Homo sapiens: one gene and its partners. The protein of the gene in region 1 purifies or fractionates together with the protein of each later gene. This does not show direct contact. Each region holds a gene or a part of one and is shown in the gene's direction. Other genes may lie near its edges.

The links.
Region 2: the proteins of EMILIN3 (region 1) and MKLN1 purify together in Homo sapiens (co-immunoprecipitation; 2 studies listed by BioGRID and IntAct, with this or other methods). This does not show direct contact.
Region 3: the proteins of EMILIN3 (region 1) and AMER1 purify together in Homo sapiens (co-immunoprecipitation; one large-scale study listed by IntAct). This does not show direct contact.
Region 4: the proteins of EMILIN3 (region 1) and KIAA0232 purify together in Homo sapiens (co-immunoprecipitation; one large-scale study listed by IntAct). This does not show direct contact.
Region 5: the proteins of EMILIN3 (region 1) and SSC4D purify together in Homo sapiens (co-immunoprecipitation; one large-scale study listed by IntAct). This does not show direct contact.
Region 6: the proteins of EMILIN3 (region 1) and RMND5B purify together in Homo sapiens (affinity purification with mass spectrometry; one large-scale study listed by BioGRID and IntAct). This does not show direct contact.

What each region holds. Positions count from the first base shown.
Region 1 is NC_000020.11:41,359,462-41,361,640, reverse strand, and holds the end of EMILIN3 (EMILIN-3 precursor), read left to right. Parts: coding exon 1-373; 3' UTR 374-1,679; downstream 1,680-2,179.
Region 2 is NC_000007.14:131,393,876-131,397,375, forward strand, and holds part of MKLN1 (muskelin), read left to right. Parts: intron 1-3,391; coding exon 3,392-3,500. UniProt on the Homo sapiens protein: Component of the CTLH E3 ubiquitin-protein ligase complex that selectively accepts ubiquitin from UBE2H and mediates ubiquitination and subsequent proteasomal degradation of the transcription factor HBP1.
Region 3 is NC_000023.11:64,184,617-64,188,708, reverse strand, and holds the end of AMER1 (APC membrane recruitment protein 1), read left to right. Parts: 3' UTR 1-3,592; downstream 3,593-4,092. UniProt on the Homo sapiens protein: Regulator of the canonical Wnt signaling pathway.
Region 4 is NC_000004.12:6,855,727-6,859,226, forward strand, and holds part of KIAA0232 (uncharacterized protein KIAA0232), read left to right. Parts: intron 1-74; exon of another isoform or gene 75-130; coding exon of another isoform or gene 131-172; intron 173-1,437; coding exon 1,438-1,504; intron 1,505-2,698; coding exon 2,699-2,780; intron 2,781-3,500.
Region 5 is NC_000007.14:76,396,198-76,399,697, reverse strand, and holds part of SSC4D (scavenger receptor cysteine-rich domain-containing group B protein precursor), read left to right. Parts: intron 1-900; coding exon 901-978; intron 979-1,865; coding exon 1,866-2,180; intron 2,181-3,500.
Region 6 is NC_000005.10:178,134,014-178,137,513, forward strand, and holds part of RMND5B (E3 ubiquitin-protein transferase RMND5B), read left to right. Parts: intron 1-1,156; exon of another isoform or gene 1,157-1,199; coding exon of another isoform or gene 1,200-1,299; intron 1,300-3,500. UniProt on the Homo sapiens protein: Core component of the CTLH E3 ubiquitin-protein ligase complex that selectively accepts ubiquitin from UBE2H and mediates ubiquitination and subsequent proteasomal degradation of the transcription factor HBP1.

The sequences.
Region 1 (2,179 bases):
GCTTCAGGCTGGCCACAGGCAGGTCCTGAACCTGCGTGGGGAGCTGGAGCAACTCAAGGCTGGTGTGGCCAAGGTGGCCAGTGGGCTGAGCCGCTGCCAGGACACAGCCCAGAAACTTCAGCACACAGTGGGACACTTTGACCAGCGGGTGGCACAAGTGGAGGGTGCGTGCAGGAGGCTGGGCCTGCTGGCCGCGGGCCTGGACAGCTTGCCCACTGAGCCACTGAGGCCCAGAGAGGGCCTGTGGAGCCATGTGGACCAGCTGAATCGTACGCTGGCCCAGCACACGCAGGACATTGCCCGCCTCCGGGATGACCTACTGGACTGCCAGGCCCAGCTGGCTGAGCAGGTGCGGCCAGGGCAAGCCAACTAGACAGGCTGGCCAGGACCCAACCCCTAGATCCCACCAACTCGGGGAACATCACCCCAGAGCCCAGCCTTATCCAGCAGCGCCTTCCAGCCTTCCCTGGCTAGCCCAAATGGCACTAAGGAGGCCACTGAGGGAATCCTCCACGTGGCTGTCCCAGCCACCAAAACCCATGCACAGTGCTGCAGAAACTGGACAGTTCCGGACAGCGGTCAAGGCAAGGATGTCATGCTTGAAGGCCAGGGTAGACTTGAGAGAGTTCACATTCCACTGTCAGCAAATCAGTGTCTGGACAGCCAGCTGCAGGGCCTGAGCATGGCTGGCAGGGGCAGCTGCTGTGGCAAACTGGCCTTGATCAGTGTCCGTATGTAAGGCCTTGAGAGGACCCTGCAGGCAGTCAGCACCAGCCTCAGCAACTGTGCAGAGACCTACAGGCCCACAGCCAGTGGCCTGTCCGCATTGCCCTGTGCCCACAAGCAACAGTCCACAGCCCTTGGTGGCTTCTGTTCCTTGTCCCCTCGGCTTCTCTTCGCAGCCATCAGGACTAGGTTTGTGCAGGAAGGTGATGCCCACTGGAACTCTCCTCACACCTGGCAGCTTCATGGATGTTGTATCTGAACTAAGGACCAGAGGCTGCCAGATGTTTCTGGCTCCTCACGTGTCCTTCAGGACAGAACAGAAGCACAAAGACTCAGCCAAGAGTTCTCTTTATTCCCTTTGATCCTCCCCCAAGGTGAGGGCTTAGGCAGCTGTAGAACCCCAGGAAAGAACGGAATCCAGGCAATCTGTTTAGAGACCCCCCACTCCAAATTTATCCTTTTCCTTTCCTTCCCCTAAGATGTTTCCAGGGCCCTCTGGTGCCCACACTGTCCTCTTCCTTCCACTTGGGGGTGGGGAAATCCTTCCTGCGAGGTCAGGGCATTTCTCTACAAAGTGGCCTGAATGAGGCCAGGCCCTGAGAAGGAGCCACCAGCTGGAGGAAAGGGGCTCCAAGCCTTGCTTTTAACACCCCTGCAAAACCCCCACCCTCCCAAGATGTTCACAAAAGGTGAGAAATTCAGGTACGAAACCATCAATGGACAACTTGAAAATGCATGTTCCTCAGGCCTATGCAGTTCCCAGAGACTCTTGACACCGGTCTCTGCTGAGGCTCCCAGCCTCAGTTTCCCCCACAGCAGCACGGGCCCCACTGTGCTGCTCTTCAGGTCCCCACAGCCCTGCCTTTGGTTCCTGGACATTTGGTATTCTGCCCTCCACTCTGGTACTATCAGAGTAGGGCAGGCTCTGGATTAAAGCTTTTAGCCGGTCTAAAGCTACTTTCTTCAAAGACAGTGGGAGGAGAGGTTGCTGGGGCATCAGCCCTGCTTCCCACAGCTCCTTAGGCAAGAGCTTACCCAGCAGCTGTGAGCACCAAGCTGGCCAGCAGAGGCTGGGGGAGGACTTTCAGGCCAACACCTGCCCCAGCTGAGTTTGGGACTGTCCTTAAGCGAGGTCTGGAGAGAGGCAGCGGCAGCAGCCGGACGGGGAGCAGGCCAAGCCGGAACCACAGCCTGCAGGTGTGGGTGTGTGTCATGTGCTGAGATGCCAGGGCACCAGCAAGGGGGATATGTTGGCAGTGATGTCTGGCTTCGGAGGGTACAGTCCTGGCTCCCAGACAAGGGGCGGGGAGAACACTGTGTCCTTCCAGAGGCTGTACCACACTCCCACTGCTGTCACCCTTCACTGAAGCCTCGAGCCTCGGTAGGGCCTCCCTCTTCTCCCTGTCCTATCAAGACTTACAGCAAGGTCCCAGGTTGACAGGGAGACAGATAT
Region 2 (3,500 bases), on another chromosome or scaffold:
TCTGCCTCCCAAAGTGTTGGGATTACAGACATGAGCCACTGCACCAGGACCAATAAATGAATTCTTAATGAGACTTGGACCTGGAAATCTCTAATATTTTATGTCTGGTGACATATATAGACTATATTCTTGGTGCTTTTAGTTTAGAATCATTATTTTATTCTGACTCTTATACTACTAGATGGTTATTGCTATGTGATTTAGTAGATAAACTTTTAAATGACACTGCTACATAAAGAAACACTAAAACAATAAAGATAATTTAATATTTGTTGTTAAAAAAAAACTTTTTGAAATGTGTGTTGTTTACATACATAAACAGAAAGGCATATTAAATATCCCAGCATTCCTTCATACATCCTTATGGCTGGTTGCTACTGCCTGTGTTTTTATTCACACAGCTTCCTTTATATCAGTGGTCCCCAACCTTTTTGACACCAGCGACCAGTTTTGTGGAAGACAGTTTTTCTGTGGACCCAGAAGTTGGGGCAGGGTATGGTGGAGAGATGGTTTTGGGATGAAACTTTTCCATCTCAGATCATCAAGCATTAGATTCTCATAAGGAGTGCACAACTTAGATCCCTTGTATTTGCAGTTCATGATAGAGTTTGCAGTCCTTTGAGAATCTAATGCCAACGCTGATCTGACAGGAGGCAGAGCCCAGGCAGTAATGCTCCCTTAACACACTGCGCACCTCCTGCCATGCGTCTGGGTTCCTAACAGGCCAGGGACCTGTACAGGTTTGGGCCTGGGGGTTTGGGACCCCTGTTTTAGATGACAAAAATATATAAAAGTATCATACCCCATACATTTTCCTTATTCAGTCGGATATTGGAAATCATTACGCCTGGTATCAGCTATTCTGGATATTCTATTTTGATGCTTCATCAAAACTCTACAAATGTTAGTTTCTTAAAGATAGTTGCATTATTGATTCTGAAACTGCATCAGTGAATCTGTTGTTACATTAAAATTCACTGGTCTATCTTGGACTTTTTACCCAGTGGTCTGTCTTGGACTTTTTACCCAGGTGTGATTTTGTAACATTCATTGGTTATTTAGAAAATATGGTTCACTGAATTACACAGATCTCCCAAATGTTGAAACACTTCATTATGTAATATTTTAAAAATCACATTTATTAATATCACATCTAATCTCATTTAAAAAAATCTAAGTGTTGGGAATCAGTTAAGCTCACAGTGGTGGGTACTTATCTTCCAAAATTCTAATTTTTCTCTTGAAAGCTTGGTTTTTATCCTTGACAGCAAATATCGTTAAGTATTTTCCTTGAAATAACATGTAAATGTTTGGCAAATACCCAAATCTGAATAATCATAGGTTGTCTGTTTTTCTTTCAAGAATAAAATGGCATTCCATGAAAAATAAATTGATTTTTAAACTCACAACTTAAATAATTGTACAGGTCCTTTCCTTGAGATAACCATTGTGGTTTGGTACACAACAAAAATGCTTTATATGCAAATCTCATTTTGTCACACAGGATACTAGACAGATGTGTACTTGATGGGAATTTAATAAAATTAATTTTTCTGTGCCATTGGTAAAAATTATTTTTATTTTATTTTATTTTATTTTATTTTATTTTATTTTATTTTATTTTACTGCCAGTGTATGGTGGTGAGGCATACAGTGCACCTTGTACTTACTGAGCACTAATAGTACTTTTTGGTGCCATTAGTTTGGTACCAAGGTGCTAGCAGTTTTACACACCATTGCTTTTGTACCATTAGTGCAATGTTGCTATTATTAAAAGGCTAGAAAAGTGTTTATTATGTTATTTTGAAAAATAGTTGTTTTGAAAAATAACTAGTGTTGTTATTAAAAAAAAAAGTAGTTTTGACTACGTGGGACCTCTGGAAAGACCATTGGGATTTTGATTGACATGATGTTAAATTTATAATTAATTGGAGAGAGCTACACATTTACAATATTGAGTTTTCCTATATAGGAACATAGTATGTTCTTTCATTTATTCAATTATTCACTAAAATTTTATATTTTCTTATAAATATTGCGTATTTTAAGTTTATTCTGAAGTATTTTCAGCTTTTTGCCATTATAAATAGGACTTTTTTGAGGTATATTTTCTAATTGGTTATTGTAGGTATAGGAAAAGTTGATTTTTGTGTGTTTACCTTGTTTACAAATAAAAAGTTTTTCAATTGAATATATATATATATTTTTTTCCACTGAGACACAGTCTTATTCTGTCGCCCAGGCTGGAGTACAGTGGTGTCATGGCAGCTCACTGCAACCTCCACCTCCTGGGTTCAAGTGATTCTCTTGCCACAGCCTCCCAAGTAGCTGGGATTATAGGCGCACGCCACCATGACTGGCTATTTTTTCTATTTTTAGTGGAGACAGAGTTTCACTGTGTTTGCCAGGCTGGTTTTGAATTCCTGGCCTCAAGTGATCCTCTTGCCACGGCCTCCCAAAGTGCTGGGATTACAGGCTTGAGCTACTGCTCCTGGCTCTCTTGAATTTTTTTAGGTAGACAGGTCATCTTTAAATTACAATTCGTTTTTCTTAATTTGTTTGTTTGTTTCCTTATTGCACTGGTTGAGACCTCTAATTAGTGACAAATAGTAGAGATATTGGACATCTTTGTCTTGTTCTGACTTGAGTGGGAATATTTAGTATTTTCCCAGTAGGTTTAATTTTTAAGGTTTTTGATGCTTTTTAAAAAAATCTAAGGAAATTTTTTATTGCCTTATATTGCTTATATATTGAGGGTTTAAAAATAATAATGTATTTAAGTCATCAAATGTGTTTTTTCTTTTATTTTGTTAACGTGGTAGATTATATTAATATAGCTCCTATTATTTATTGAACCATCATCTTTCCATTCCTGGAATGAGATCTGTTTGGTTACAATGAAAATCTGATAGAATTTTTTGCAACTTTTCTCCTTTTAATTTGTATTTAAATATGTATTCATAGCTGTGATTGGCCTTAAGTCTTTTTTCTTCTGATTTGGATTTCAGGGTTGTGCCACTGATAAATAATTTCAGTCTCTTTCAGTGTTCTGATGTAGACTAAATTCTAAAGTAATTTTTTGCTGCTTGTACATTTGATAAAATTTACCTGTTAAATCATCTAATTCTGGTGGCATTTATTTGGGGGTAGACATGTGCACATTTTTAATTTATCTTACAGTGTTTTTATTAACTAAGGAAATCTTATGGTGGCATGGGTCATCTGTTTCGTTTTACTGTTGTAGCCTTAGCACCATGCTAGTCATATAAAAGATGCCCAGAAAATTCGTTGAATGAATCCTTATAAGGTTGAATAGTGCTTTTACTTTGCTAAAGTTTTATTTGAACTGTGTTAATATTTTTCTTCTTCTTTTTGTTTTTTCTCCTTAAAGTTCCACTCTTGTCCTGGGGACCCAGCTTTAACTTTAGCATCTGGTATGTTGAACTTAGTGGCATTGATGATCCTGATATAGTACAACCTTGTCTCAACTGGTATAGCAA
Region 3 (4,092 bases), on another chromosome or scaffold:
TTTCTTAAAAGGGAAAACTCCCTTCTCAAGCCTCCCAACACAAAATGTTCCTTAAGCCTTGCCCATCCCATCATTTGGACTCTGTAATAAGGCCCCAGGTTTGCACTCCCAAGACAGGATACCAAAGGCATCTCAGCTGCTGTTCTGGGCCCTTTAAAGAGCTTTTATCTTCCAATTAGCCGAGTCCTTAGCATCATCAAATGACAGGGCTTCTTGGCAGTTGCAGCCCTTTATGGAATGAATGGCACCCTCCCTTCTCCTGCATCCATGCAGTTTTCATGTTAAACTAGGTTGGAAATACTGGTGGGGAAGAGCTTGCTGTCAGGAAGACATTGGAACAGGCTAATCTTGCCAAGCTCAACCTCTCATTAATCACCTGTAGGAGAGGGTTCCTTTTACATGTCTTTATTGGAAATGGCATATGGAACATTTTTTGCTTGGCTGTGTTCACTCAAATTATGATTATTGCACCCTCGCCCTCACATCCCACCATCTCCATGCCTGTTGAGAGAAGAAGTCAACAGGGTTCTTGCCATTCCTGAGATATGGCAATTTAGCTTGGGAACAGATGCTGTTTGCCCCCTAAGTCAAGGTGACTTTGTGGGCAAACTGTTTCTTGGCCAGGGGATGTGTCCATGCTGGTCTTTGTCACCATTTCTCAGATTGGGGTTGGCCCAGTGCCCTTACTCACAAATAGCAGACCTGGCTGGTAGAAGCTGCACCCCTGGAAGCACCACATGAATTTGCATGGCACTAACACCACCACTCAAGGGACCCAGACCAGCTCTTCAGGCTGACTTTGGCTACAGATACATTGTGAAGAAATGTATCTGTTGTGGAGCTGGAGAATGAAAGAGGGTGAGGAAGGCCCTCCTTACCCCAAGCACAGCATTCCAAGAGAGAAGTGCCCAAATTCCAACTTTCTGGCCTCTTACCAAAGCTGCTCTGGGATGGTGGGGCTGAAATTGGCCTGGCTATTTGGCAGGAAGTAAACACTCACCAAATGCCTTTACAACAGGGAAGAACCCACCTCTTGCCTCTTCTTTCAGGGCAGCTTGAGCTCCTGTCTACATGTGGACTGTGCCAGCCACAGCAGGCGGTAGAGCCATCACCAGCCTCCAGACCCTGCTGGAGAAGGGCCACCAGCCTATCTGGGAAGAGAAAAAGGAGGTGGCCAACCTTTGGCTAAGGGCTGAGAGCTGCCCTCAGGATCAGGAAGGCAGCATGAGGCATTGTCTCTGAGGGGCACTGGCATAGCCCTGACACACTTTGTTGGGCTTTGGAAGGTCACACACCACAGAGTAGGGCCTGGGGCTGAGTGAGAGTTCATGGTTTGGACAGCCTTGCTGCCTGCAAGTCCCTTCACTGCCCTAGCCAGCCCAGGAATAGGATCCTTACCACCTGAAGTGGGGCAGCCAGGATATGTGGCTGCAGAAGCAGGTTCCTTTGAATTTCTAGAGCTAAGCAGTTTGTGGCTGAAACCCAATGGCAGCCTAGGGGAGGAAGGAAGACCTGTCTGGGGACCCATGGTGTTGACAGCACAGGGTGACATTGGGAGAGCCAGCCAAGCTTCAGGCCTGTTTCCAAACACAGACTAGTGCTGGCTTGGGTGGCAGCAAATACACCCCAGACCACTAAAACTGTTGATATCATGTCCACACCTCCAAGAGTACTACTAGATGAACAACATGTCTCCATTGCAAGGTCCTGGAATAATGCTTTTGGATGTGATTTTAAGGGAAAATGGGACTTAGTGGAAGTAGCTGCCTTCATCTTATTACCCAATAGGCCTAGTGCCAGACAGCTGTGATCCTGAGAATTCCCAGATGAGACTGGTCCTTGGAGGACCAGTGAATGTGGATAGAGAAGGCCACCTAGTAGGCCTCTCCCAGGGCCAGGATGCCAGTTTCTTGGTGCTTTAGAGTCTCCAAGGAAGCACTGCCTTGGGGCCCAGTTCAAGCCAGCCCTACCTATCTGGCCTCAGCTTGGGTACCAGGCCACAAGACTGCCCGGATAATGGGTTCAGTAAACACCAGTCTCTCTCCCTCCTTAGTCCTATGCCAAGAAGGGAAGTAGCTTCACACACTCAGGAGGCTGGGTGTGTACCCTTCATCCTGCTGCCAGCAGCTTTCCTTACCTGTGCCAGTGCCACCACCCCACCTGCCCTCAGCCCCCAGGCCCAGTTGCTAGAGGGAGGCATGGGGTTTAGCAGGGAGACTTCAAGTTTACCCATGTGTATGTTGCATTCAAGTTGTTTTTAATATATATATATATATATATCAAAAGTCAATTATCTATTTTTATATTGTTTGCATTTTATATTCATGGAAAACAATGTTTATCAATTGTTCTTTTCTGATTTATTTTTAAGCGGTGCTGTTTACAGTTTTAAACAAAACAAAGATGACACAAAAATTGCTGCTGCTTGTGCAGAGGGCTGGCATCTCAACTGCCTAGGGCCCTCCCTCTTTCCCCTCTCCCTACCTTAGCTGTACCACACTGTCCGTTCCCTCCCCCCATGATAGGGACAGCAGAAGATGCCCAGGTACTGAAGACAAACGCCAAGTGACTCAGGCGTGTGGGACCTGGTAGACAGCTTGTCATTTTCTGGCTTTATTTTATGTTTTTCTTTCTTTTGAACCCTTCTTCCCCATGTCTAGACCCTCTGAGAGTACTCATGTGTCTTATTTTTTTTCCTCGTTATGTTTTGTGCTTTAGTTTTGAAATCAGAGTGCCCATGTTGTGCTATTTGTCTTGTTGAGTTTCTCCAAAGGAGCATTTTGGGAACATTCTCCACCCAATGGGGAAGGAAGGGGGTTTCAACCATGTCCCCTTTCCCCAAGAAGCTGTGGGAGACAGATGACAATGATGCTTGCACTATCAGGAATTTACCATCTCGTTGAGGAAACCCTTGCATAGGACTTCCTAGGAGCTCAGTTGATTGTGACATTTTCCCAGAAGAGAGGCTTTGGGGAACTCCTTCACCCCTCTTGCTGCTTTGGGGGAATCTCCTCCCCTACCACCATTCCCCCTCCCCTGCCCTGCTCCAGCTCACACGTGGATGGTACTTTGGGGAACAGTGACTTTCAGGGTGATGGCTTGCTGGCCTGATCCCTGACTTTCCAATCCTATAGTCACTCCAAAGAAGAAAATCCACATGGTATGTATATGTGTGAGGGTTGGGTCTATTGAGAGGTGGGACTTTAATTATTGTTATTATTATTGGTGCTTATTTTTCCTGCTGTATATGGGGGTGGGGGTGGGGGGGAATAAAACAGGAATGTATATTTAGGTCATGTTAAATAAAATGGCTGGAGGAAGGAGGGAAGAAATTAGGAACTGCAGTACATCATCACCCCAGGTGTAAGAGTTATTTCTCTCCCAGTGCAGAAAGGGGAGTGTGGCCCCTGGCTGTACCTGAGCTTCCTCTTCTCCATCCCTGAGACATCACAGAATCACCCGGGTTCTGACCTCTCCACTTCTAGCTCTCACTGACATCTGGATATCTTGATGCACTGCCTGTTTGTAACAACATATACTTCTTTGCTGAATGCTAATAAACTTCTGGGTTCAAGAGGGAACCCCTCAGTCACTAATGTGCATTCTTGTGGTTTGTTCCACAGTAGTGTGCCTGTAACCCATGGTTGTTGGGATTGCCCTTGGAGAGAAATTGAGAAACCAAGGAGGTGGTGGGTGGAGGTGGAGTAGGGAGAACCAGCAGGGGAAACAGAAGCCAGGGCTGAAATTGAAAGTAGAGGAAATTGCAGTTTTTCATCCAAGCCATGCCTTATATCCCAGTCAGATGCCATATTGGCAAACTCTCTATCACACCTTCTATGCCTTAAGACCTGCCCCTTAAGTCCCTGTGCACTGCCAGGGGCTGGCTAGCACTTCTAAAATTAGCCTCAATTTCTGCAAGTATGTGGCCTCCCTACCAGCCAGGAGACAAATGTGTGTACCTCCTGCTGATGGCTCAATCAAAAGGTTATATCTAATGGTGGGACCGGCAGGCCAAGCTGCAGGAATGGCATCTTTTATCCGGGACTATGGGCAGAGATGCTGGCCAGATAGCTGCCTGCCCCACCTATTCAG
Region 4 (3,500 bases), on another chromosome or scaffold:
CCCTAGAGGTTCAGTGTTCTGCATTGCGAGACTAGCCCTAGGTTTAGAAACCTAGTGACATAGGCTTGCTGTACAGAACAGTATGCAGTGTGTCAGCTGACACTGGTGTTGGTTTCACGATCCGAAGGAAATGGAATATAATTGCCGTCCTTGTCACACCTTGAGCATTATGGTAAGCAGGTGCTTTCTGGTGCAACTGTTTGTGGTTGAACAGTGTTTATGACTAATATCTGCCATCGTTTTTAAGAGTGTTTTTAAAGGAAAGGGCAACTCTTGTCTGGCCTATTTTTCTATCTTCCTATTAAAACCTGTGGTATGACGTGGACAGAATGTAACTCTAGATGTTTACAATTAACTGTTTTCATTGTAATCTGTTTCTTGCTACTCAAACTGTGTAACCGTGGGATTTCTTATGTAGGATATCTATAATATTTGTGCTGAGTCATTTTGAGTTAAGTGAATGGGGTAAAGTTCTATTTTTAGCCCGTCAAGGCCTAGTGAGGGCACTGGCTTAGCAGAACTCTCCATCACGCGCATCTGTTTGGGTTATGCCCACCAATAAGGACTTGATTCCAGTTTAAATAGGACTTTGGTCACTGAATAAATCTAAAGTTTCTGAGAAATACATTGACTTTTTTTGTCCACTGTAAAAAAATTTTTTTTTCTTCCTGTGAGAAATTGAGACTCTTAAAAGTTAAAGTCTACTAATGAAAGATTATTTGCTTGTGCCTGTTTTCTACATTCATTTTTCTTTAAAGGTTGACTCTTATTTTTACCCTCCCAAATCCAGACTCTTCTATGTACTCTCCTTAAATTTTAAACTCCCAAGCTTTGTATAGAAGTCGATAATCTGGTCCAGATGCTGAAAAGAAGACAAAGCTTTCACATTTGCAATATTGGCTTCATTTTCTGGACTTCTGTTGTTTTAATCATGAGTGTTCATGTTTCTTTAAAACAGAAAAAAAAAAAATCACCTTGTTTTCTTCAGGGTGTGAGCTCCTAGAGAACTAAGATGAGGTTTTGTGATTTTCCTTTGTTTTAAGTCTGGTATAAGATCTCGCTCACATAAATATTTAATACTCTTTTTGATGGTGACTGACTTTTGGTCGTATGATGGACATTTAGGCCCTTAAATCTGCCCCATGAGCAAGATGACACACCTTTGGAAAAACAGAAGCTATTCTGGGAGGTACATGAATATGTTCACATTTTATCACTAAGTTTCATTTAATATGCCTTATTAGTAATAAGCATGTATACCAATTTGTATCTACAAACCTATAATTTTTAAACTGTAGTATTCACGTAAATATTGGTAAGATATTTATTTTGGAATGTGGATGATTTGTAAAACCTGTGTATTAAAACAAAAGTATACAAATACCTGATTTGTACATACCTGGCTGTAACCTAATGTGTCTTTTTGTTGTCATGCAGAGCTCTGGTATCGAGACTTTAGTGGAGGAGCTCTGCTCCAGACTGAAAGACCTTCAGAGTAAGCAAGGTGAGGTCAAAAGCACTGTGCGCACACATGCCAGGATTACATCCCTGAGGAATCTGGATTGGGGAAAATCTTAGAATTGATCAGAAAAGAAAACAACCAGAACAAAGTCTTTGTGTCCAGTGTGTGTCACTAGGCCAGCCTCATGCTCCATCTGCAGCTCTGTTAGTGGCTTCTGTGTCAGACCCAGCAGTCACTCATAGAGATTCCTGCAACCAAGGGAGGGACTTAGTCCACAGGTGCCCTCAGAGATAGGAAACACTTCATGGTTTTCTGTTTTTTGGGTTTTTTTAATTGTTGTTGGCTTCAAGTTGAAGCTCAGAGATCAGGAACAATATTGTCTCTTTCCTTTCCCCATCCTTGCCCCTCTGTTAATATCTGCCTGTTGATGTTAAGACTGCTAAATTACGACATTAAATTAAGATGTTAAGACATGAATTACTTCAGGTTTGGAAGGGACTTCTGTTTTGACTCAGCTTTTTTGAAAACACAGACTTGGCAAGCTTATTTAGTTATTTCGATATATGAATCCTCCTCATACTTTTTCTAACTTGTTTGCAATCCCTAAGAACGAGACCTTCATATTAAGGGTGAGGATCCTTGTTTCCTTGCCCTCTTTATGGTCATTTTGCTGCCCACCAAGCCTTGAGCCTGCCTCTTAAGGGCACAGTTGATTTGTAACCTAAGGCAGTATCCTAGGCTAAACTAAGGGATAGCCCTTTTTCCTGTTTCAGTTGAAATAGCCCTTGCTCACCTACATGTTAAGTAATAGAGCAAATTGTAATAAAGAATATTCTTTACAGATTAGTTTTGGTCAAGATGAGTCAATGTAAAGTCTATGAGTGTAGAATTTTGTGAGAAAATAGTTTTGGAATCTAAACAGATGTTCTGTCCTTCTGGTCTAATTAATAAGTACACAGGGGACTTCAGTCTCTTAATTAAGTGCCTCTAGAGCACTGTATCAGTGACGAGATGAACAACTCTCACCTCTTGGCCTAATGCTAATGTGGTTTAATCGGAGAATTCCCTCTGGCACACTGAAAAAATAGATTTTTATTAAAAAGATCGGTATTGAGTTTGCCTTTTAAGCACCAAAGTCTCTATTTCTTGTTAAAATTAGTTGAGAAACTTTGAAATACATTAGCATTTATTAACTAGATATAAGACAAATCTTTCTTAATTTTTGTTTCATAACAGAAGAGAAGATTCACAAAAAGTTAGAGGGGTCTCCCTCTCCAGAGGCAGAATTATCCCCTCCAGCAAAGGATCAAGTGGAAATGTATGTAAGATTGTATTCGGTAATAAAGTGTGCATTTGTTAAAATCAGATGAATAACTGCTACATGGTTTCCGTTTTCTGTTTGTCATCTTGTTTAGTTTCATTATATATAATGTAAGAAACATTTATCGAGCGCTTATATGCTTGACACTGAGAATTCAAAGGTGAAACAAGATGGTTCTGTCCTTGGTGTTCATATTCAATATTTGTGGAACAAATGAGTGAAACATAGAAGGTTATTATTTGCTAAGTCTATGTATGTACTATTACCTTTAATATTCACAACAGCCCTTTGAGACAGCTGTGAGAAATTAGGATTATCAGCCGGGCACAGTGGCTCATGTCAGTAATCCCAGCACTTTGGGAAGCCAAGGCAGGTGGATCACCTGAGGTCAGGAGTTTGAGACCAGCCTGGTCAACATGGTGAAACCCAGTCTCAAATATTAGTTGAGCATGGTGGTACATGCCTGTAATCCCAGCTACTCAGGAGACCGAGGCAGGAGAATTTCTGGAACCCGGGAGGCAGAGGTTGCAGTGAGCTGAGACTGTGCCATTGCACTCCAGCCTGGACGACAGAGCGAGACTCTGTCTTATTAAAAAAAAAAAAAAAAAAAAAAACAAGAAAGAAAAGAAATGATTATCCATGTTCACAAGCAAGAACACTGAGTTCCCACTGTTTACTGCAGAGGGAACATAGGCAATCCTTGACCTGCCAAACCTG
Region 5 (3,500 bases), on another chromosome or scaffold:
AAAATTAGCAAGGTGTTGGGGGCGGTCCCAGCTACTTGGGAGGCAGAGGAGGGAGGATCGCTGGAGTCTGGGGGGGTCAAGGCTGCAGTGAGCCGTGATTGTGACACTGCACTCCAGCCTGGGTGACAGAGCAAGATCCTGTCTCGAAAAACAAAGAAAAAAACGACTATTGGGGTCACACTGGCCATGCGCTCCACGTGGCATAGAGCTGCAGCGGAAACTGAGAGCAGTGCTTCTAGTTTTCAAGAAAATCAGGGGGTCTCATGAAAACACAGATTGAGGCCCAATCCCAGAGTTTCTGATTCTGCAGGTCTGGATGGGGCCTGAGAATCTGCATCGCTAACAGTTCCCAAGGGAGGTGAACTGCTTTAAGAACTGTGCTTCAGGCTGGGCACGGTGGCTCATGCCTGTAATTCCAGCACTTTGGGAAGCCGAGGCAGGTGTATCACCTGAGGTCAGGAGTTCAAGACCAGCCTGACCAACATGGTGAAACCCCATCTCTACTAAAAATACAAAAAATTAGCTGGGCATGGTGGCAGGCACCTGTAATCCCAGCTACTCAGGAGGCTGAGGCAGGCAAATTGCTTTAACCAGGGAGGCGGAGGTTGCAGCAAGCTGAGATTGCACCATTGCACTCCAGCCTGAGCGACAGAGCAAGACTCCATCTCAAAAAATAAAATAAAATAAAAAACAACAACAAAAACCGTGCTTTAGAGGAGTCCAGGACTCTGGTGTGGACCCTCTCCTCTCATACCCCAGTGTTCCTGGCTGTGACTCTTTGTGTGGCCAGAGGCTCTGGCGGCAAGCACCTTATGGGTCCATCCTCCTGCCCCTTAAACACCCCGTGGTGTGAGGATGGAGAACAGAAAGACCCCTGTATCCACTTCACTTCCTTTCCAGAATTCTTGCCAACGCAGCCCCCAACAAGGAAGATGTTAACCAGTAGAGCACCTCCTACGACACTGCCGAATGGAAAAAGTACGTAAGCATAATGTGGGCACCACCTGGGTTTTGGGAGAGGAGTCTCTCACACCCTACCCTAGGCAGTGGGAAGACAGGGATTACAAATTGAAGATGTAAAGTTAGAGAAAATGGCTGGGCATGGTGGCTCACACCTGTAATCCCAGCACTTTGGGAGGCCGAGGCCAGCGGATCACTTGAGGTTGGGAGCTCCAGACCAGACTGGCCAACATGGTGAAACCCTGTCTCTACAAAAAATACAAAAATTAGCCAGGCGTGGTGGCATATTCCTGTAGTCCCAGCTACTTGGGAGGCTGAGGCAGGGGGATCACTTGAACCCGGGAGGCAGAGGTTGCAGTAAGATCATGCCACTGTACTCTAGCCTGGGGGACACAGTGAGACCCTGTCTCAAAAAAAAAAAAAAAAAATAGAAAATGAATGGGCGGTGAGACTGGAGCTTAATCTCACAGGAAGGTCAGATGAGCCCAAGAATGATGATCATGACTAGAAGAAGAAAATGAAAAGTGCTCTAAAAGAGGGACAGTGAAAGAGGCAAAGAAGTCCAGAGGTGGAAGAGGGTCCCGTTCCTCAGGAGATCAGGGAAGGCTTCCTGGAGGAAGAGGTGTGGGGCTGTATCTTGAGGATGTCATTTGCAGTAGATGAGAAGGCAGCACGTCCCAGGCTGCCAGGAGACAGGGAGCAGGGTAGGGGGGTTGGTTTTAGGCAGAAATGATACTATGATCCCACAAGCTACCCCCAGTCTGGACCAAGGAGGCGGTACCCTGGGCAGCGGGGTGAGCAGATGCCCAAGGGTTGTAGATCCTGGGACACCGGGCTGCCCTTGCGGTGCGGACGGGGGCAGAGGCCAGTGGGAGATGCGCCCTGACCCCCGCCCCCATCCCCAGGTGAGGGCAGCGTACGCCTGGTAGGGGGCGCGAACCTGTGTCAGGGCCGAGTGGAGATCCTGCACAGTGGCCTGTGGGGCACCGTGTGTGACGACGACTGGGGGCTGCCGGATGCCGCTGTGGTCTGTCGTCAGCTGGGCTGCGGGGCGGCCATGGCCGCCACCACCAACGCCTTCTTCGGCTATGGCACCGGACACATCCTGCTGGACAACGTGCACTGCGAAGGCGGCGAGCCCCGCCTGGCAGCCTGCCAGAGCCTGGGCTGGGGTGTGCACAACTGCGGCCACCACGAGGACGCGGGCGCGCTCTGCGCAGGTGCGGGCTCTAGGGGCGATGGGCGGGGCCGGGGCAGGTGGGCGGGGCCCTGTGGCAATGCTGGAGGAGGAGGCTTCGGTGGGGAGGTGGATGGGGAGGGTGTTTTGGCTGTCTTGATGCTCCCCAGAGCTCTCCAGGCAGCATCCAAAATTACTTCTATCTCAGTCCTGTTCTAGAAGTGCCTCCGAATATCCCAGAACTCCTTGTGGTACACTCCATGGCTATGAAACAATATTGCACTAATCCAGTCTGGCCAACATGGCAAAAATTAGCCGGGCGTGGTGGTGCATGCTTGTAATCCCAGAGACTCGGGAGGCTGAGGCAGGAGAATCGCTTGAACCCAGGAGGTGGAGGTTGCAGTGAGCCGAGCTGACGCCACTGCACTCCAGCCAGGGTGACAGAGACAGACTCCATCTCAAAACAAACAAACAAAAAAACTGTACTATTGCTTCACCAATACTCGAGAATTCTATAGCAATATCCCAAGAATGCCTCCAGAATGTTCCAGCAAGTACTGTTCCTGGACCACTTTAGAGTAACACTCTAGGATAACACTCGGAGTAACACTCTAGAATTGCCCCAGAGATATTCCAGCATTCTCTGATGCTCACAGCATTACCTAGCACACCCCTCTGTCATCCTGATGCTCTAATAATAGTATTTTCTCCCCACCTAGGCCCTCTCCAATTTGGGAGGGTTTCTCAGCAAAGAGGAATAATAGGGCCAATAATGCTATTTCACAGATGGACTCTGCTCTGTAAGAGATAAAGTGGTTGCCCACAACTCATAACTCATAGCAAACTAAGGGCTATCATTCCCAGTGTATAGGTGGGAAAGCTGAGGCCCAGAGAGTCAGAGCCTTGCCCATGGTCACACAGTTAATGCAAGGCAGGCAAGCCCCCAAATCGAGGCTTAGTCCAGGAGGGTTTTTGGCTTCCCTCAGCAAAGAATTTAAGGGCCAGCTGGTGTTAGCAGCTTTCATTGACGCGGCAATGCACAGCAGCAGCAGAGGTCCTGCTCCTTGCTGAGCAGGGCTACCCCATAGGCAGTGTGCCCAGAGTAGCAGCTGAGAGGCAGGTCTGCAGTCGTAATTCTATTTACTTTCAAGTATATGCAAATTAGGGGGTGGATTATGCAGATATTTTAAGAACTAGAATAGTAATTTTTGGGTTGTCTGCGTTGCCATGGAAAGGTAACTCCAGGTGTTGCCACGGCAATGGTAAACTGACATGGCATACGAGTGGGCGTATCTCATGGAGAGGCACTCCCACCCCATCCCTGTTTTAGCTAGTCCTCAATTTGGCCCGGTATCTGAGCTCC
Region 6 (3,500 bases), on another chromosome or scaffold:
CAATCAACAAATGTTTACTGAGCATCTACCATGGACCAGGCCCTAGTCTGGGCACTGAGGGGGAGAAAGGACAAGACTACATTCCAGCCATCGAGCAGCTCACAGACCAATGGAGGAGGCTGACGTGGACAGGCTGTTACTGTGCTGCAGTAGCTGAGGACTCGATGGGTGTGGTGTGGCCACTCTTGCCAGGTTATGAAGCAGAAAAGGAGGCAGGGAGATTTCACTGAGGGCTCAAGGGGAGGTGATAATTTAACTACAGCTTACGTACTCTATACAAAGAAGTGCAGAGGGCACTCTAAAAATGGGAACAACTTGTGCAAAGGAAGCAAATACATTATTGCAAAGGGTTTATATGTCAACCATGGTAGTGTTGGGCAAAAGGTAACAGGATCTGCTATGTGTTTCGGAGGGTCATCCTGGTGGATAATTTCTGTATATGTGAGACCTTGGGGAGGAAGGCTTAGGACCAGTGGACATGAAATTTCAATCTATTAATCATGAAGTTTGTCAAAGACAAACACAATTCCTTGCGCCTGGTGAAGATGACTGACTGATTCAGGCAGAGTGGCTTGCTCTAGACAGACTGAATTAACCTCCTGCATTTTTTGGATAGAATACCCACGAACAGTTCTGTTTTCTCAGTTCATTTATTTTACTTTTAAAAATTTGGCCAGGTGATTTGGCTCACACCTGTAATCCCAGTGCTTTGGGAGGCCAAGGCAGGTGGATCACTTGAGGCTAGGAGTTCGAGACCAGCCTGGCCAAAATGGCGAAACCCCGTCTTTACTAAAAATACAAAAATGAAAAAAAAAAAAAGCCAGGTGTGGTGGTGCACCTGTAATCCCAGCTACTTGGGAGACCAAGGCATAAGAATTGCTTGGACCCGGGAGGTGGAGGTTGCCAGTGAGCCAAGATAGCACCACTGTATTCCAGCCTGGGCAACAGAGCGAGACCGTCTACAAAAAAAAAAAAAAAATTACTGAGTTAATCACACTCCTCAGTTCATGATACATTTAACTGGTCCATGCAGGGCCTTTTTCTCCTTTGTATTTATATTCCCTTTTGTCCCTATTCTTCCCCTCTCTTCTCACCACAGGAAACCATTCTGATGTGTTTGGTGTATATCTTCTTTTTGTTTTTTGTTTTTTTGAGACAGGGTCTCACTCTTGCTCAGGCTGGAATGCAGTGGCATAATCATGGCTGACTGCAGCCTTGACCTCCCGGGCTCAAGCAGTCCTCCGTCCCACCTCAGCCTTCTGAGGAGCTGGGACCACAGGCGTGTGCCACCATGCCCAGGTAAATTTGCCGTGTTGCCCAAGCTAGTCTCAAACTCCTGAGCTCAGCAGTCTGCCTGCCTTGACCTCCCAAAATGCTGAGATTACAGGTGTGAGCCACTGCTCCCAGCCTATATGCATATACTTTTAATTTACATAAATGGATTCTGCCTAGACCTCATTTTTTTCCACCTCAGTGCCATGTGTGGAGCTTGTCGATGTTGCTCTGGGTATATTTGGGATGCAGTTTCTAAATGCTCCACAGGTTTCCATAGATGCATCCCCCACATTTTACTTACTTGATTCCTCTAGTGATGAGGTCCCTAGATTGTTTCCCACTCCTTGCTACAATGCAATCCCGTACCCATCTCCTTCCTCAGCTTTGTAAATAGAATTTTATCGCTTCTCAGCCTTTTCGCTGAGATCAAGTGTAGTAAATACAATTTCAAGATGCTGATTTGAGCTTGGCTTTGATAAGCCTGGTAGCTCTTGGTGTCTGACAGGGCCGGATTGTTTGACCTTCGTGAGGTCCTGGCTTTTTTGAGCCATGTTTATTTTTGATAAATTGTGATTCTAGTTCCCAGACACTCTTGGCCAACATTCTAGTGTCCTGCCATCTTCCCCAGTTGATCATTCTCACGAGCTCTGTGGTTAATTTTCTGTTTCTCATCATCATTAATGGTTGCTGTACACTCATTCCAACACAGATATTTGCTCTTTCCTTTCCTGGTGAAACAGTGGCCTGTGAAGCTGGTCCTGGGAGTACCTGTGATGTGAAGTACGTAGAGAAGGACTCTGAGGCCAGAGCCAGACTGTCTGGCTTCAGTTCAGTTCCCAGCTCCTCCACTTCCCAGACGCCTGACCTTGGGCAACTGATTTAATCTTTGTGTCTCATTTTCTCATCTGCAAAGTGGGTCTAATCATTGTACCTACCTCATAGTGTTTTCGTGAGCATTAGGTAAATGAATTAATGTATGCAAAGTCATTAGAACGGTGCCTGGCACATAACAGGCTCCTATTTGGAATGTCAGCTGTTAATAATAGCAATAATAATAATTACGTCATTTCAGATAGGAGACCCTGTTATATTTTGCCATAATGGGTCACATTCAGTTGCAGGGTGTTTGTTCAGAGGGGATGGTGGGGGGTGGGTGGCATAGCTTCTGGACTCTCTGACTATAGATTCCAGCGTAATAGCATTAGCTGTAAGGAAAAAGGGAAGAAACACAGCCCCCAAGGCCCTGGGTGCCTTTTCACTGTCACTTGTTGCCTGTCAGGTTGGGAGACAGTGGCTACAGATGGGTCAAGGTGCTGAGGCCGGGACTCATGCTGGTGGGAATGAGGGAATGAGTGAAGAGAGCCTGTGAAACTGGGAGGATCTTGGTGGTCACCTTGGACATAGGATTCTCTTTCTCTTTGATGTTCCTCTGTACCCTTCTTGAGAATGGGCATTGGGCTAGATCAGCTCTGTCACTGACATTCTGAGGTTTGCCCACGTGTTCAGTGTCAAAGGCTGCTCTGAAATGGAAAGGAGCAGTGGCCCAGGGTAGAAAGGACACAGAAGGAAGCCCCAGTGGTAGGGAGAGGAGATAGGACAAGAAAAGTCAACTTTCTTTCAATGGTATAATGAGGAGGGAAGGTTGTGTTGCAGCAAGAGAGGTTCTGGTCTGGTGGGGGAGGCAGGCCCAGTGACCAAAACTGAAATAGAAGGGTGCAAAGTGAGAGTAGAGGGAGCTAGGTGGGCACAGGCTAGAGACAGCTGCTGAAGACGCTGACGTCTGAGCTAACTCAGAAGTGATGGGCCAGCCTCTCAAGTAGTCGAGGAGGTAAGGGTGATGGAGAGCAGGCCAGGTGAGGAAGCAGCATGTACCAGGGCACGCAGCTATGAGACAGCAAGGGTTCTGTGCCTGTCCTCGGGTGTGCGGCGGGTGAGGGTGAGGCAGGAGTGCTGGGCAAGTCCGTCAGGCCAGCATGGTTGGCAGTTATTCCCCAAGCTGTGTTTCCAAATATCAGCCACTCAAGGACGGCCTTTATGGTTTATGTTACTATAGTACGTAGAAAAGCAGTTCCTCTAACTGTAAGAATGTGGCCATAATAACTCTATGAAAATACACGGGCCGGGCATGGTGGCTTATGCCTATAATCCCAGCACTTTGAGAGGCCAAGGTGGAAAGATCGTTTGAGCCCAGGAGTTTGAGACCAGCCAGGGCAACACAGAGAGAC